Homo sapiens: one gene and its partner. The protein of the gene in region 2 purifies or fractionates together with the protein of the main gene of each other region. This does not show direct contact. Each region holds a gene or a part of one and is shown on either strand. Other genes may lie near its edges.

Region 1 (4,018 bases), on a different chromosome or scaffold from region 2:
TGCTTCACTTATTTAAATAAAATATTTCTAAGAGTGTCCTTAGAAATGTTAATCTTATGGTATTTAAAACAGCTAAACTACGCCGGGCCCAGTGGCTCATGCCTGTAATCCCAGCACTTTGGGAGGGTGAGGCGGGCAGATCACCTGAGGTTGAGACCAGACTGACTAACATGGAGAAACCTTGTCTCTACTAAAAATACAAAATTAGCCAGGCGTGGTGGCGCATGCCTGTAATCCCAGCTACTCGGGAAGCTGAGACAGTAGAATCACTTGAACTCAGGAGGCAGAAGTTGCAGTCAGCCAGGATCACGCCATTGCAATCCAGCCTGGGCAACGAGAGCGAAACTCTGCCTCAAAAATAAAATAAAATAAAATAGCTAAACTACAATGTTTCTACCATATAGCTCAAACCCTCTACCTAATGACAAAATATAAATATGAAGTTTAAACCACTTCATAATTTGTAGTTAATATGTGGGGTGTTTTTTGTTCTTAAGAGACCAGGTCTCACTATGTTGCTTAGGCTGGAGTGCAGCAGCTATTCACAGCACAATCACAGTGAACTACAGCCCTCAACCTCCTGGGCTCAAGCAGCCTTGCCACCAGGTCTCCCAAGTAAAAGGGACTACAGGCACAGGCCACCACACTTGGCTTAAAAGAGTGTTCTTATATGAACTTAATACCCAAAATCCAAACTTTCTAAAATACTGCAGACCTAACAGTCCTTAGGAAGGAATTTTTTCTTGGTTATAAAACTATAGGTCCAGTGCTTTCTAGATCACTAAGAGAGAGATTCAGATATCTGATAAGGCAGAATTATCGTCTGTGAAAATCCCCACTTCTTCCATAAAAGCATGAAAAAGTGATATGAATCTACACATCCAAGAAGCTCGATGAACTCAAAGCAGGATAAACACAAAGAAATACACACATTGAGATAAATTATAATCAAACTGTTGAAAGACAAAGACAAATGCTAAAAGCAGCAAGAGAGAAGCTAAGAGTCATGAACAAGGGATCCTCAGTAAGACTAACAACAGATACAACAGACTTCTCATCAGAAACCATAGGGGCCACAGCAGCTCTGCCTATGGAGTAGCCATTCTTTTATTCCTTTACTTTAATAAACTTGTTTTCAAAGAAAGAAAAGAGAAAAGAAACCATAGGAGCCAGAGGCAGTAAGATAAAGTGCTAAAAGAAAAAACCTCCCCATCAAAAATTCTAACTTAAAATGGTTAAGATGCCAATAAAACCTGAAGCAACCTATAGAGGCAACACAATCCCCATCAAAATCCCAACTGTCTTGTTTACAGAAATGGAGAAGCCAAATCTAAAATTCATACGGGGCCCACACAGTGGCTCACGCCTGTAATCCCAGCATTTTGGGAGGCCAAGGTGGGCAGATCACCTGAGGTTAGGAGTTTGAGATCAATCTTGCCAACGTGGTGAAACCCCATCTCTACTAAAAAAACAAATATTAGCCAGGCATGGTGGTGGGCACCTGTAATCTCAGCTACTTGCAGCCTGAGGTGGTTGGATCGCTTGAACCCAGGAGGCAGAGGCTGCAAGTGAAACGAGATCACGCCACTGCACTCCAGCCTGGGCGACAGAGTAAGACTACCTCTCAAAATAAAATAATATAAAATAAAATTCATATTGAATGACAAGGGACCCCAAACAACCAAAACAATTTTGAAAAAGAAAAACAATGCTGGTAAAGTTACACTTCTCAAATTTTAAATATACTCCAAAGCTACAGTAATCAAAGCAGAATAGAACTGAGAATCCAGAAATAAACCCATATAATAAATCTTTGGCTGGCCAGGCATGGTGGCTCATGCCTGTATTCCCAGCACTTTGGGAGGCCGAGGTGGATGGATCACCTGAGGTCAGGAGTTCAAGACCAGCCTGGCCAACATGGCAAAACCCCGTATCTACTAAAAAAAAATACCAAAAAAAATAGCCCGGCGTGATGGCAGGTGACTGTAGTCTCAGCTACTTGGGAGGATGAGGCAGAAGAATCGCTTGAACTCAGGAGGTGGAGGCTGTAGTGACCCAAGACTGCATCATTGCACTCCAGCCTGGGTGACAGAGTGAGACCCTGTCTCAACAACAACAACAAAATCTTTGCTCAACTGATTTTCAACAATGCCAAGACTATTCAATGGGGAAAGAACAGTCTCTCCAACAAATGGTACTAGGTCAACTGGAGAAGCACGTGCAAAAAAAATGAAATGAACCCCTACCTCATACCATACCAAGATGTACTCAAAATGGATCAAAAGCCTAAATATACAAGCCAAAACTATAAAATAATTAGGGGAAAAAACATTAAAAAATAAAAAAAAATCTTCACGGCTTTGGATTTGTCAATGCCTTAGATATGACACCATAAAGCAATAAAAGGAAAAAAAAAGATAAATTAGCCTTAACCAAAAGTAAAACCTTTTGTGTATTGAAGGACACTAACAAGGAAGCAAAAAGACAAGGCCGGGTGTGGTGGCTCATGCCTATAATGCCAGCACTTTGGGAGGCCAAGGCAGGCGGATCACCTGAGGTCAGGAGTTCAAGACCAGCCTGGCCACCTGGGCAACAGAGCGAGACTCCATCTCAAAAAAAAAAAAAAAAAAAGAAAAAAAAGAACTCTTACAACCTCAACAATAAGACAACCCCAACAAACACATGAAAAGATGTTCAACACCATTAGTCATTAGGGAAATGCAAAACAAAACTTCACACCCATTAGGATGACTATAATCAAAAACAGATAATAACAAATGTTGACAAAGATACAGAAAAACTGCACCCTTCAAACATTGCTGGTGGGAATTTTAAAATGGTGTAGCTGCTGTGGAAAAGTGGTTGCTCAAAAAGTTAAACAAAATTACCATAGAACCCAGTAATTTTACTCCTAGGTATATACCAAAATAACTGATAACAGGTACTCAAATACTTGTACACCAATATTCACAGCAGCACTATTCACAACAGCTAAAAGGCAGAAACAACCCAATTGCTCATCAATAGGTGATTGAATAAACCAATGTGGTTTATACATATAACAGAATATTACTCAGCCATTAAATGGAAAAGAAAGAAGAGGGAGTGACAGCTCAATAGTAGTTTTCTTTCGTGATGAAATTGTTTTGGACCTAGACAGAGATGTCATTATGAATGCACTAAATGACACTGAATTATACATTTTATAAAAGGGCTAATTTTGGCTGGGCACAGTGGCTCACACCTGTAATCCCAGCACTTTGGGAGGTCGAGGTGGACGGATCACCTGAGGTCATGAGTTTGAGACTAGCCTGACCAACATGGAGAAACCCTGTCTCTACTAAAAATACAAAATTAGCCAGGCATGGCACATGCTTGTAATCCCAGCTACTTGAGAGGCTGAGGCAGGAGAATCACTTGAACCCGGGAGGTGGAGGTTGCTGTGAGCCGAGATCGCGCCATTGCACTCCAGCCTGGGCAACAAGAGCAAAACTCCATCTCAAAAAAAAAAAAAAAAAAAAAAGGCTAATTTTATGTTCTGCAAATTTCACCTCAATTTTGTTAAGTTAAAAAAAAGCAGCAGCTCATAATCTATACAAAAAAAGAGAAAAACATAAATTTATCTAAGAACACAAGAAAACAATGCATAAGCAGGAATTAAATTATAGTCAATAAATGCTAAAATGTAGACAGCAGTGCTCATGGAGAAAAAAAAGAGAGAGGGACATCAAACTATGAAAAAAGTTGTCCATAAGAGAAGGAAATGGCATAGGTGTCAAAAAGTGCTGTTTTTCAAATAAAGAATTCCAGAATGATTTAGCGCTTAAAAAAAAAAGATAACAACAAGTGTTGATAAGGATGTGCAGAAACCTGAACCCTGGAGGGGATGTGAAATGGTGCAGCCACGGCTGGGCGCAGCAGCTCACGCCTGTAATCCCAGCACTTTGGGAGGCCGAGGTGGGTGGATCATTTGAGGTCAGGAGTTCGAGACCAGCCTGACCAATATAAGGAAACCCTC
Region 2 (3,151 bases):
TGAGGCAGGAGAATTGCTTGAAAGGGGTGGGGGCGGGGGAGGGGGGTCGAGGAGGTTGCAGTGAGCCAAGATCGCTCCATTGCACTCCAGCCTGGGTGACAAGAGAAAAACTCGTCTCCAAAAAAAAAAAGAAAAGAAAAGAAAACAAACAAAAAACACACACAAAACATGCTACACTAACAATGGTTCTGACTTCCCATATTTTTGTTGGACACATTTGCTTTTCAGCTTATATACAAAATGTCAACCTATTATAGGGTTGTTTTCAAGTGAGTCCAGGTCACTTGAGACAATCATCACATCTCCCATAGGTTTTTAGTTCAGTGCTGCATCTCAGGACCCTGGCTCCTCCACCCTTTTTGACACTAGCCAAGTGTGCCTTTGGACCCTCATTTTGTCTTTGGAGGATTTCAATTAAGGGTTAAGCTCAGGGCCACACTTCAGCTGTGCTTCAGAGATATTTAAGGTAGTACCTACAATCCATCAACCACACTGAACTATCAACTTATTTAAAACTTTATTGTTATTTTTAAAAATGGGAAAAAAGAAAAAACACTTTTTATTAACAATCATCAAAGAAATATTCACAACAAGACTCAGAGCCAAGGGTTTTCCCTTAACTCTTTAAGGGAACAAATGGTTTTCCCTTAACTCTTTAGGCTGGAGCAGATTTTAAAACAAGCTTAAGGAATCACTCTAGCTCTGGCCACAACCTAATCTCTGCAACCCGGCTTCATTGCATTGGCTGGAAACTGGTTCACTTCATCCAAGGGCCTAGTTCGAGGGCATTCATGGCTTCGGCAAGTTTGAGCATCCCTGCACCAGAAATAGCAACAGCGGCGTGAGTCTGGGGGAAAATAGTAAGCGCCCGGACTGTTCTCCGCCTCTTTCAGGGTTCGTTTCTGGGACTTCTGATCCAGGCGTTCTGGGCCTGAGAGTCAGGCCCAGAACCTTGGAACCCGAGACTACTCGGCCCATTCGAACATTCTCCAAGAAACTGAAGGGGGCGGGGAGACGGTTGAGATAGCTCAGATAACCCTGCCCAGTGGGTCCAGCACCAGCCGCCTTTCACCATAGTCTCACCCCTGGGTCTCCAAGACCGACGGCCGGCATTCTGGGGCCCCCATTCCCAAAGGGGTCTTGGGAAGGCCCAGATGCCAAGGGCACCCCTGGTGACGCCCAAGGTGCTGGCAGCGAGCAAGAGAGGAGAAAGAGGAGAGGGCTGGAGGAGAGGCGCGAAGCGGCCCCCGCGAGCCTGTGTTCCGCGTACCCAGTCTCTGGGCCTCTCACCTCGCTCCTGGCGCTGGCGGTGCCACTCAGCCATGGACTGGAGCATCCACTTGGTCCGGAGCTTGTACAAATAGGAGCCGTAAACCACGACCTCGGTGAGGTCTGAAGACTCCAGAGCCTTCAGCTCGAGCATGGCCTTGCTCACCTGCTCGATGTAAGGGATTCGAGATCCGTCCGGGCCTGTTGGGGAAAAGAGATGAGATCCCCGGGCCGGCTGAGACTCCCGAGCCGGGGCAGCCCGCCAGTACTGGGCACACTCACCGAAAATGGCTTTCAGCAGCCGCGTCTGGACCTGGAACACCTCTGGATCTTTCAGGTCTTCGGGAACTTTCACCCACGGCGGGATATGTCTACGTGCCGGGAGAGTTCCCATCTTATGACCCTCACAACCAAGACCACTCTCCAGCGCAAACCAGGCCTAATCACGCCGGCCGAGGCTCAGGGGCGATAAAGCCTCGCACCTGGTGGCCCCGCCCCCGGCCAGGCCCCGCCCCCGGCCCGGGCCAGGACCCTGAGTCCATGCCCCGCCGCCCTGGCTGCGGTCCAGCAGGTTGCCAACTCTTCCGCTTCCCGCGACTTCGGGAGAGCCTCACCCGGGCCCAGCTGTCTCCAAGTTAACTAGGGTTTCCACCTGCATTGACCTGTGTCTTTCGCACCAGAATCCCATGGGCTTGGGAATGGCTGGGGGCAAGGTGCTCTTGCCTCTTCCTCTAGGGAACAACCGGTGGGACCTGAACCTCGGAAAGCGGGCGTCCAGGCTTGAGGGTGCGAGGACCACCCAGTAGCTGCCGAATCGAGTTCCTGCCTCACACGTTCCAAAGAAGGGTCCGTATCCCCTCGGCCTTAAGGAGCAGGACCCGCGGCTCCACTTTGCTGGCGACCCGGACAACGTCCCGGGAACTCTGGAGGAACTCTTGCCATTGAACAAAAGAGAAAACCGAAATTCGGAAACTGATTATCTTACCTAAAGGGATTAGCGTTCTTCGAAGCCCCTGGCTCTAGAGTCTTTGAACCTACCCGGATTATAAAGCTCACCTGTGCCCTGCCTGCGCACTCCAGCCAAAACCGGTCCAGGCTTCTGGCTCCTCTGTAAATAAATTTGGTTTATTCGTTTTTTAAACATAGTGTTTGGAGCGATGCACTGGAGTCACTCGATGAGAGTGTGATTTCACTGTTTTATGGCTTTACAGATGGTGATTAAGCTGGCATTTCCAGTCCTGGTAACATCTAATGTCCCCTCAGCTGTCCATTATTGAGGGTTTCTTAAGGCAGACCTCTTCACACACACACGCACGCACACACACACACACGCACGCACACACACACACAATGGGTTCTTTTGCAACCACCAGTGTAGTTAATTTAGAAAATGATCATCAATAGCTAAAACTATCAGATGAAGACTGTTGAGGAACTAGATAGTCACAAGTTTGGAAGCCCTAGGCACAGATTATGAATTGCAAAGGAGAAAAAAACATTCCTTTACAGTAGAGACTTGGAAGAAGCCACCTTGACCCAAGTTAGCATCACCAATAATGGGACAAATGGATTTCTGGTTCAATATCTGAAAAACAAAAAGAGGACTGTTTTATTAATTGACTAAGACACTAAATGCTGTGTGCATAGTTCAAATAATTCTGAATCAAAGATGGGGGATGCATTTCAGGACAATGAAGGAAATTTTAATATGCCCTATATTTCAAAGTAGTATTAGAAACTTCTAAAGTTTAGAACTTCTAGAGTGGGATAAGTGTACTACAGTTATGTAAGATAAGGTCATTATTCTCAGGAGAAACATGCTAAAGTATGTAGAGTGAATTGGGTTTCTTTGTTTTTATTTTTATTATTTTTTAAATTAAAT

The links.
Region 1: the proteins of DPPA5 (region 2) and DNM1L purify together in Homo sapiens (affinity purification with mass spectrometry; one large-scale study listed by BioGRID and IntAct). This does not show direct contact.

Annotation. Positions count from the first base shown.
Region 1 is NC_000012.12:32,685,551-32,689,568, reverse strand, and holds part of DNM1L (dynamin-1-like protein), read right to left. Parts: intron 1-4,018. UniProt on the Homo sapiens protein: Functions in mitochondrial and peroxisomal division.
Region 2 is NC_000006.12:73,352,563-73,355,713, forward strand, and holds DPPA5 (developmental pluripotency-associated 5 protein), read right to left. Parts: upstream 1,715-3,151; 5' UTR 1,664-1,714; coding exon 1,552-1,663; intron 1,471-1,551; coding exon 1,291-1,470; intron 817-1,290; coding exon 758-816; 3' UTR 501-757; downstream 1-500.